Regions from separate parts of the Homo sapiens genome. Here all the other regions are linked to region 3. Evidence: fine-mapped expression QTL. A gene starts in region 3. Each other region holds a variant in brackets. All regions are shown on one strand. Distances are between the middles of the regions.

Region 1 (2,691 bases), 140 kb before region 3:
AAGTCTCAGTCCTTCATGCTGTCTCCCTAGTTATACCTTCTCCTTTTTCATTGCTTCCCTCTGGACTGAATCACTCCTGACATCATATGTAAACATACTGTATTATTTCCCATTTAGGAAAACACCAAAACAAAAATAAAGACCCTCTCCTGACCCCACGTTACCCTCCAACCGCTATCCCATTTCTCAAAACCTCTTAGAAGGATTGTGAGCACACTGTCTCCACCTTCTCACTCCTATTCACTCCACAGCACAATCCAATCCAGTTTCCATTCCCTTTGCTCTGCTGAAACTGTTCTAGTCAAGACCTCCAACCATCTCCATACTGACAATCCAGGGAATTCTTTGGACCAGATGATGTCATTGGTTTGCTTAAAATTCTTTAGTCTTCCCATTGGGCTTAAAAGGACATCCAAACTTCATTTCTTGGCCTTCAGAGCCTTTACTGGCCATGGTCTAACCCTTAAACCTCATCTCATGACCCTTCCCAACCTTCTCGTGAAGTTTTAGTCTTTAGTCATTGGCCTTCCATGGATTCCAGAGATTTTCCAGTCTCTTTCTGCCTCAGGGCCTTTGTGCCTGCTATGGCTTCTGCCCGGAGTGTTTTTCCCTTTGCTTGCTGTGTGGAGGATTCTTTCTAAGTCTTTAGGCCTTAAGAGTCACTTCCTCAAGAGACCTCAGTGACTACTCTACCTAAAATGACCCACTTTGGTATTTTTTATTACGTCACCCCATTTTTAATATTGCATAAAATCCATCATTATTCTGACCATTTATGTATTTAAATGTTTATCATCTCTCCCCATTTTTCTCCCTACTCCCCCCTCACTAATGTAAACTCCATGAAGTCAGGGACTGTGGCCATCTTGTTTGCCATCATATCTTGCTAGGTCTGGTATGTAGAAGTGGCTCTATACTTATTGAATAATGAATGAATGGCTCAAATGTTCTCCACATATGAAGTAGCATGTGGATTCTTGAGATGTCTGGGCCTACCTTCACAGTCATTTGAATGTTAAGCAACTCAGATGATCAGCAGAGGTACCCGTTCTTTGCTATTTACATATAGTTGAGAAGAACTCCCTTTCCTGCAAAAGTGCAATACCCTCCTCAGGATGTTTGTGAATGCCTGGTGTCTTAAACTCTCATGAGCACTTGTGGTTTTAATTTGCTGCCCCTGTAAATTTTCAGTCTCATTCACATCTCATCTCATGCAGCTGTTCTTAGCTTTCTGCTCCAACATGACCCAGATGAGTCTTTCTCTTTTTTATTGGCCCCAGATATCACCGATCAGACATTTGAGTATAGACCAGTCTTTCTTCAAGTGTTGGAGCATTGCTGGGGACAAAGAGGCAGCCAGGGGCCATAGTGTCTATACCACAACACTAGGAAATAAACAACTTTAAATTTTAATATTAAATATCTTAGCAGTCCTTTTGGGCTGGGCTCAGTGGCTCACACCTGTAATCCCAACACTTTGGGAGGCCAAGGCAGGGGAATCACTTGAGGCTGGAATTTGAAGCCAGCCTGGGCAACAAAGTGAGACCCCATCTCTACAAACAATTTTTTAAGAAATGAACTGGGCATGGTGTCATGCACCTGTGGTCCCAGCTACTTGGGAGGCTGAAGCAGGAGGATCTCTGGAGCCCAGAAGTTTGAGGCTGCAGTGAGCTATGATCACAACACTGCACTCCAGTCTGGGTGAC[A/C]GTGTGAGACCCTGTCTCAAAAAAAAAAAAAAAAAAAATTCCTTTAGTTACCACCCCCACTGCCCTCCCTCTGGTGACTTTTTGCTGGTGACATTTCTCAGCCCCTCTTCTCCTTTTCACTTGCTCTTCATCATTTCTTTTGGAGAGCAGTTTAATTCTATGTTCCTGTTCTTTCAAATGAGAGAGGGTGATGAGATGGGAACAGGGAATAAGAGAAGAAAAGGAATATTCGCCTTTCGAATAATAGAAGGCAATCTACTCCTAGAGAAATAGTCCAGTCCCTTAGAAACAGAGCAGCTTCAGGCTGTTGTGATTTTAAAGAGCACTTTTTTAAACTCCACTTTACCAACACATTTTATGCCCCAAGTGAGGGAAGTATGTTTATTGCTATACGTTGCTATATGTTCCTACATTAACAGTCACACACACATACACACACACAGATGCATAATCATGTGTTGCTTAATGATGGGGATAGTATCTGAGGAATGTGTTGGTAGGTGATTTTGTCATCATGTGGACATGATAGAGTGTACTTATGCAAACCTAGATGATATAGCCTACTACACACCTGGGCTATATGGGACGACAGCCTATTGCTCTTAAGCCACACACCTGTACAGCATGTTACTGTACTGAATACTGTAGGCAGTTATAGCACAATGGTGAGTATTTGTGTATCTAAACCTATCTAAACAGGAAAGGTATGTTAAAACAGTATTAGAATCCTATGGGACCGCCATCATATCTGTGGTCCATCTGAAATGACTGAAAAGTCATTATGCAGCACACGACTGTGTGTGTGTGTGTGTGTGTGTGTGTTTATGTGTGTCTGTGTGTATGTGTGTGTCTATGTGTGTGTGTAATTTTGGTTGTTTTCCAAAAAAGCTCCTGTATAGGCCAGAACCTAGTGAACCCAATTCTCAGTCAGTCATACCTTCAGAGTCTGAGTAAAAATTCTTGATTGGGTCTGCCAGCCTCCCCA
Region 2 (2,691 bases), 39 kb after region 3:
CAAAGAGGAGTATAATATAATGAATGGAACTTCTGAAGACACCCCTAAACAACTTTGGCACTCCTAAAGTGAAACACTTTTCTGTAGAGTTAAAATATATAGAATCCTTTCACCTTTAATTGATTGAAAATGATGGTGCCTGGAACTATTTTTGAGAATAATTTTGATCTAAAGGGAAAAAAAATACATGTGTTTCTTCTGAGTGCTGCTTTTCCATTTTCCTAATGGGCTCTTCGCTATTGTTTTGTCTGAATGCAGTTTTTTATTTGTGTTATTCCAGACATGGTCCTACCACAAGCATCTTTAAACCAGACATTAATAGCATAGTTCACAGTCATTACTGCCAGTGCTCAAACACAAATATTGCATTTGTGTTTGCAAAAGCTACACATCAGATGTTAATTAAGTGCATTTGGTTTTTTTCTGCTTAAACAATCTGGCATAAAGAGTTTACATCCATATCAGTTCACCATAAGGTCTCAACAATATCTAAATCACCAGCCATACAGTATATGATAAATACAGTGTTTCCACACAAGAAAATAACAGAATTGTCAGGAAGACATCAGGCCTGTTATATTTCTCTGTGAAATAATAGCGACTGAATCTCAGTTTCTTTTTCTTTTTGATAAAAAAATATTTAACTAGGAGTAAACACCAATATTTAGAATGATAAATTTTTCATTAAAGCACACATGGAAAACGAAATCATACCAAAGATTTTTTTCCTTGTTTTTAGCTTGCTTCAGGGCGTTGTGACAGTTGTGTTGGAAGAAAATTGGAATTTCAGCCTTGCAGTGAGGGGATCCGTGCTGCCACCAGAGCAGCTGAGTGCCAATCTGCGGGAGGCGGGAGTGGAGCGAAACTGCAAACTGAGAAACAAACTTTCACATCAGGTTTCTAATTTTAGAGCAAAAAGTGGAATTACTTTAATTATATGACATTTAACTAGAAATACGATTTGCTGGGATTAATTATCTCTCTCATTTAAAATACCTTCTTAGTAGGTTTAAATTAACATAAAAAATCAAATTCAGCATTTAAATAAGGTCAATGGGACTGCTGGATTTAAACACAGAATTTGATTCAGT[AT/T]AATTGGATCACCGTATTGGTTTTGACTTGGAAGGATTAAATGGAGGAAATTGGAAAAGCGTGAATTTGGGCAGAAAGAGAAATTTTCTCTTCTTTTTCTTTCTTTCTTCTTTCACCTTCCAAGGGAGAGAAGTTTCCCCACCTTGGAGAGGAAACTACTACCCTGATTAGGTCAGAAACATCTCAGATTCATTAATTGTCTCCGTTTTATCACTACTTGAATAAGAAATAGTAATAAAACAAAAATATTGTGTAACTAAAGCTTACTAGAAGAATTTAAAATACATATAACAAGGGTCTGTTTGAAAAATGATTATTCTGTGTTAAGTGATTACCTCTTATTTTATTTAAAAGCATATGAAAGTTATTTCTGATGTTTTATTTTGCTTAAAAAATGAACTTTATGCTTTTGAAGGAATTTTAAAAATAAGAGTTTCATTTCAATCAAGTAAGTCGCTGTTGGGACACTGAACAGTGTACGTGTCATGTTCTTTATTGAACTCTTGTCCTTAGGGCTTATGTCTAAGCTTACTTTATCTTTAATAATTTGTCTTAGGCAATGAGTTCATTTATAGCAAGAATGATCAACTTTGGAAATTCTACTAACAGGGGGAAGTTATTAGACATGCAATGGAAGAGGATGTCTTGGAATTTGCTGGGTGAGGGATTCAGGAAAAGTCCCAGGGCTACAGGGATGGAATGACCCATGTCATGGGGAAAGCCCCAAGTCCACATGCAGGAACTTCCTTTGAAAGTGACTTGCTCCCTCAGGCTGATGAATTGCATGTGAATAACTGAATGTGACTGGGCATATCAAAGCTATGGGACAGCAAAGCGTAATGGTGAAGCACTACAGGCCTGGTAAGGATTTTGAATAGTCATGCTGATGTAACCCCCAGTGTTATATACTCTTCAGCAAAACCTGAGTGTGATCCAACTATTTGTTGGAACGATGGTAAAGATATTACCATTCCTTGAGTCAAAATAGGATAAGTACATTAGATTTTAGGACATAAGGCTATTTGTAACATGACTTATTGGGGGGTAAATGAGAGAAAAATGTTTGGAAGTTTTCTGTTAAAGAGTGGCAACATTAAGATTGACAAAAATTCCAATTATACTCTGTGCAATGTTAAAACTGATATAATTCTTAAAGATATTTAGGGTAAGTGATTGGGACATGAGATGATGAGAGAGAGATGTATTGACTGTTAGGAAATTTAATTTTTATGAAATCAGCATTATGGGGAAATACTGTAATCTGATTCATTCCTGCAGAATTCCCAGGAGGAAGAGGCCCAGCCTCGGGAGTTGAAATGTTTCATTATGTACATGTGTGGGAAAAAGATGAAATGTGGTTTCCGTGTGCTGATTTTCTGTAAAACATCTATTAGTATGAGAGTAGCCAGGCTAGGCAACAAAGCCCCCAAACCATCGTAGTCTAGGGAAAAGTGAACCCAGAAGGCATTTCTCTGATGGATGCTGACATCAGGAGCAATAAGTTTGAAAGTAGCAAGAAAAAGTAATGACAGTAAAATAATGTTGAAATAGTAGCTAAGGAATGATCACATGCTGAAGATGAGGTCAGTCCTTTATTCC
Region 3 (2,691 bases):
CTCTCCATTTGGGTTTGAAGTGAGTAGAGTGGAGAAAGGGATGCTTTCAGAAATGTTATCTTACTTAATGCCCCCATAGCCTGTAGCTCCGTAAGGAACAGTCTCTCGGGAGAAAGAGAGGATTAGGAGCTGTGGGGGGAAAAGCTTTCCTTCTGGCAGTTTCTACAGCTAGAACCATGAAGCCCCCAGGTGTCACACTGTTTTCTCTGGAGAAATATTATAAGATTAGATGTAATGTTATTACGCTGTCTCATTTGGCAAGTAGTATCATTATCCGATTGTTTGGAAAGGTGAAATACAGGGGATTCTGGTTCTTTGCCCTACCATGGAAGGAACATTTGGACACCACATTACTTTTTTTGGAAAACGGAAGCTAAAGCTAGAGGCCAAAAAAGCTCTCAAAAGAGAAGATGAAGAAAGTTAGGAATATTGGTCTGATTAAAAAGCTCTCAAAATTATCTAGTGAATGCTGACATTAGATAGGTATTGGTCTTTAGGTAATAACATGGGTATGTATCTACTTTATGCACTTCTATGCAGATTTAGTAGAAAAAAATACCTAAATATATATTTAATTCCATAGGATCCCAGTGCATTTTGAGGATTTAAACAGATAAGCCAACCTCAAAGGGACTGATTCTTGCAACTAAAACACAGACACCTCTGGGGTGAAATGTGGCAACAGTTTGACAGGCATAGCAGTAGCTTAGGCCAGAAAGGATTTATCCAATTAAAATTATGGGATGAATTTTGGCTGGCAGAATGTAATTACCAGCCTTGGAATGGATCCAGGATCCTGAGGTTAACACCCCTCCTCTTGCCAACAACCCTCCTACCTGCCAACACTCCGAGATGGAGAAGGCTGGATCTGACATAATCGCACATAATACTGTTGTGACATCTAAGTACAATGATGATGATGTGAGAAGCATCATGAACCTGATTTTTTTTAACACTCATTATGTTACTTATTTTTATGCCACATTAGGCTAGAAACCAAATGTCCACATAAATGTTAATTTCCTCAAATCTGTGTTTAAAAATTATAATTAGAAAATAAAAAATAGATTTAAAAATTAATTTATTCCGTCAAAGTAGTTATTTAGTGATTATTTCACTACAGGAACAAAATTGGATCAAAATGGTGACATTTAATCCTTGCTACACGAAAAAAAAAAAAGCAGGTCCTGATTTTTTGGAAGCGAAATGTGTTTTCAAGGTTGAGTGGCCTAGAAAAAAAGGAAATGCGGAAGCCTGATTCATATTCGTTGTAACTTTGACTAAATGGGTATGCGCAAGGACTGCTTTTGTCCCGGGGTGGGTCCAGTTCACAGTCACGGGGGGCACTAATCCTCCAGGAGGGGATTTACCAGAAGGGTGTGTGTGAGTGCGTGTGTCCCTTCCAAGGAAACGAGAGAAGAGCCCCCTGCTGGTGCATGATCAATAGGCAAAGACCTGATCATTAGATGCCAATGCCCCTTTAAAGTCATTAATTGACTAGAGAATTGTGGAGGGTCTGGCGATACGGAAGAGCAAACGAAAAGGCAACACTGATAAAAATCTGAAGCGTTCAAGGACGCCAGGCACGTGGTGCCGGGTCAGGGAGGGAGAGGCAGAGCCAGCCCGGTCGGTGTGCGGCTGGGGTGGGGCGCGCTCCGGGCGTCCGGGAGGCGGAGCCGGCGGCAGACGCTGCGCGCGGGCCACGCGCGGCGGCGGAGGCTGCGCGCGGGCCACGCGCGGCGGCGACTTGGGCTGGGCGGTCGCCCTGCCCCACCGCCCTTCGGCGCTCGCAGGTCCGCTCCCCTCCCAAACCGCAGAGCGGCAGGCGCGGCCGCTGGTTCGAGAGCTCGGCCGGGGCAGCGCAGCCGCCGGCTGCCCCTCGCTCCCAGGCGCCACAACCCCGCGCCCTCGCCGCTGCTGCGTCCCGCGAGACCTGTGGGGAGGCCGGGAGTCACTTCGGGTTCCCTTTCAGCCCACGTGGTCCTGGGACACTCCACCCAGGAACCTAGTCGGCACCGCGCAGGGAATCCCAGCAGCGGGGTTCTGGCCCCAGCACGCGTTGCGGCAGCCTGGCGAGCGTCCTTGCGGCCTCCAAGTGCCGGTGGGGTGCGTGCGCAGGGGGCAGGTGAACTGCTGCACTTTGCACTTGCTAGGCTAGGTTCTCCGCGGGTGGGGAGGCGCGGGGGCGGGGGACGGCCGAGTGTTTAATCTATCACCAGAGGTCATCCAATGGTAATTGAAGGATGAGCTGGGAGGACTAGGATCTCCCTGTCCCAAACACAGAGTGTTTTGGGGGGCTTGCGTTTGGGTCACTTTCTGAGCCTGGTACTGCCGCTCATTTCAGCTTCGCTGTGAAGGTGAATTTTTCTAACACCATCTTTGTGTGATTTAGCTGTCCACAGGGAATCAAAATGTGGAATGAGAGGATGAAACTAATCCTTTCTTTTGCACTGTTAGGGGTTGCCATAAACACCATTTGTTAAAAAGCATAATTATGTTGGGAAAGTGCCTGATGAGACAATTAAGCTGCATAAACACACTGAAAACAAATGAAAACCAGAAGACGCCCACACCCCTTGTGTAAAGCAATTTTTTGTTTACATAGAAACGAGAGGTCTGGGTTGCTTTATTACAACAATGTTATTAATATCTAGAAAAACCTAATGACAGAATTTTTATGAATTTTCAGTG
Region 4 (2,691 bases), 20 kb before region 3:
GATTGTGCCACTGCACTCCAGTCAGCCTGGCTAACGAGTGAAACTCCGTCTCAAAAAAAAAAAAAACCAAGTCAAAGTCACATAATTTAGGTAAGTCTTTGCTAAGCAAGGCTAGTTTAATATTTTTGGTTTAATAACAAAACAGCTATCTTCTATGATTTATCAGTGTTAAGTACAATATAAGCATCAATTTTTATTCTACTTGGGTGTATTCTTTCTAAACTTGTACAGGTTTACTGATCAAATAAGCTAGCACTACTTCTACTTAATATTTAAAGTTATAAAAATTATATATGTATTCAACCAAATTGACTCATTGCTCTAACAAAATTTTATTTTAGCAGTGATTATGTTTCATAGTATGTCAACTTGGAGATAATTTCCAAGATCTATTGATAACTTAAAACCTTAGGCTGATGTTAAATTGAATTAATTAATGGCTATTCATTGAATGCCTAGATAATTTGTAAGTTACTATAACATTGATTATTATCTATTTTTTTACTTGTTAATTGTTTATTTGTCAAGAGAGAAATTATTTCTTAGCCCACATAGTCATGTTTCATAGTTCAGGAACACAAGTCAGTGACAAACTTCTAGGCAATTTAACTCAAAGAAATTCTTCATATTCCAGAATTATTTTGTATTATAAAAGATACCAGCCTTCCTTATCTCCTTAAAATCTTTCATGGAATCATAATTTTTGTAGAAATCTGCACGTTTCCCTTCTTGGTTCAACCACAGCAAACTTATAGAGAGCCACAACCTCCAGGAACACAATGCTCCAACAATATGAAATTGCAGATGTTTGACCAGAAGGTCATGCATCTGAGGTTTCATCAAAGCACTGACAAGCCATGGCAGTTATTGTCCTTGATAAGTACATCAGCCTCAAAACCAGTATCCTTCCTGGCTGATAGAGAAATGAACAGCACCTACTAAGCATACTTTTAAGATTGTGCTTTTGCTTCTTATTTTTATATGCCACAGAAGGACAAACTTGGGGTTTCTTACTGTGTTCATTTTTGCCACCTTGAAAATTGGTATAAAGTATGGCTGTAGAAAGTTGTGTTAAACGTTTTCATGAACTCTGCAGGACTGCAAGGATGCTGGTGTGTAACATGGTTGTCCACCTCTTTTCCCTCCCACTCCCCAATTTTCTATGAAAATAGAAATTACGGCCGGACGTGGTGGCTCACGCCTGTAATCCCAGCACTTTGGGAGGCCGAGGCGGGC[G/C]GTTCACGAGGTCAGGAGATCGAGACCAGCCTGACTAACACGATGAAACCCCGTCTCTACTAAAAATACAAAAAATTAGCCGGGCGTGGTGTCGGGCGCCTGTAGTCCCAGCTACTCGGGAGGCTGAGGCAGGAGAATGGCGTGAACCAGGGTGGCGGAGCTTGCAGTGAGCCGAGATTGCGCCATTGTACTCCAGCCTGGGTAACAAGAGCGAAAGTCCGTCTCAAAAAAAAAAAAAAAAAAGAAAAAAAAAGAAAAAGAAAACAGAAATTACTTAGGTTAAAAATTATAATTAACGTATATAAATGAGACTACCTCGGAGCAATAGTTTCGGAGAAATACAGTTGACCCTTGAACAGTGTAGGGGTTAAGGATACTGACTCACCTCTCCGTAGAAAATCCACATATAAATAAATAAAATATAAATATATTTTAGAGACAGAGACTCACTTTGTCACCAAGGCTGGAGTGCGGTGGCACGATCATGGCTCACTGAAACCTTCACCTCCCGGGCTCAAAATCTCCTCCTGCCTTAGCCTTCTGAGTAGCTGAGGCGCCACCACGCCCAGCTACTTTTTGTAGAGAAGGGGTTTTTACCATGTTGCCCAGGCTGGTCTCGAACTCCTGGGCTCAAGTGATCTGCCTGCCTCGGCCTCCCAAAGTGCCAGGATTACGGGCATGAGCCACTGTGCCTTGCCTGTTCTAATTTAAAATTTAAAAAAAGCAAAAATTTTTTAAATTTAAAATAAACTAAAGAAGATGAAAAGGACATAGGTCCATTACTAAAATAATTATTTCTGGTTCCATGGTAACATTTTAGAGACAGCTTTGCTATGTCAAAAATAAAATTAGAGCTTTACAGGATGAATAATACATTGAGACAACAGAGGGACTTTTTTTTCCAACATTTCCAACCAAGTCTCTGACCCTATTGCAGCAAGTTAAATGTCCCATGTCTGTATAAAGTACTCCAGCAGATTTAGGATTGGAATGCAAAAATTACATTGTAATACTGAATAAAACTGGGGCTAATGTGAGGAAATATGAACTCTTGGAGGAAGTTCAAGCATCAACGAAAGTAGTCATGGAATTGCAGTTTGTTATTATAATAGATACTTAGAAAAAAATGTCTTCTGAAGAATGAAGGTGAAAAATCCTACATTCCCTATTCTAGAAGTTGAACTACTGTACCTAGTTCTGTTGTGACAGAATGTATTCCCAGGTTTTAAATGTTTTTTCCTTCTTTTCCTTCTCAGAGGGACAGCATCACAGGTGTAGGAGCTGCTGTTGTCTTTAATCTATTTCCATTATACGTTTAGGGGGTGGGGGAAGTAAAGAAGGGTTAGATTTGGGAACCCAAAAAGACAATGAAGAATCACACAGGGTTTTGTTAAAAAAAAAAAAAAAAGGAAAATTTAGTTTTTCATAACTAGATAACCAGTTTTAAAGTGTTCC

Direction of the effects. Alleles are on the strand shown, and positions count from the first base shown. SD is a standard deviation of normalised expression in the study named. Not every link is listed here.
As copies of C replace A in region 1, the expression in prefrontal cortex of the gene that starts at base 1,673 in region 3 goes down (moderate effect, 0.58 SD a copy in BrainSeq).

Evidence for each region. PIP is the estimated chance that this variant, and not a neighbour inherited with it, causes the effect. A credible set is the group of variants that fine-mapping cannot tell apart.
Region 1: its variant is the best candidate, but not a certain one, in a credible set for the expression of FTCDNL1 in prefrontal cortex (BrainSeq, PIP 0.65).
Region 2: its variant is the best candidate, but not a certain one, in a credible set for the expression of FTCDNL1 in whole blood (INTERVAL, PIP 0.57).
Region 4: its variant is the best candidate, but not a certain one, in a credible set for the expression of FTCDNL1 in whole blood (INTERVAL, PIP 0.83).

The regions. Positions count from the first base shown.
Region 1 is chr2:199,990,384-199,993,074 of GRCh38, reverse strand. The region is part of intron 2 of LOC124906112 (a long non-coding RNA gene); the gene reads left to right. Among named protein-coding and RNA genes, the nearest start is that of MAIP1, 36 kb to the right of the region's middle. The variant A/C (reference allele first, on the strand shown) is at 1,707.
Region 2 is chr2:199,810,773-199,813,463 of GRCh38, reverse strand. FTCDNL1 (formiminotransferase cyclodeaminase N-terminal like) reads left to right here. Exons shown (of 5, transcript NM_001363886.2): 5 at 740-2,691. The coding sequence ends at 759. Among named protein-coding and RNA genes, the nearest start is that of FTCDNL1, 39 kb to the left of the region's middle. The variant AT/T (reference allele first, on the strand shown) is at 1,092.
Region 3 is chr2:199,850,174-199,852,864 of GRCh38, reverse strand. It overlaps FTCDNL1 (formiminotransferase cyclodeaminase N-terminal like), which reads left to right and starts at 1,673. Exons shown (of 5, transcript NM_001363886.2): 1 at 1,673-2,125. RefSeq lists an enhancer at 1,207-1,781 and a silencer at 1,613-1,892.
Region 4 is chr2:199,870,330-199,873,020 of GRCh38, reverse strand. No RefSeq gene overlaps it. Among named protein-coding and RNA genes, the nearest start is that of FTCDNL1, 20 kb to the right of the region's middle. The variant G/C (reference allele first, on the strand shown) is at 1,237.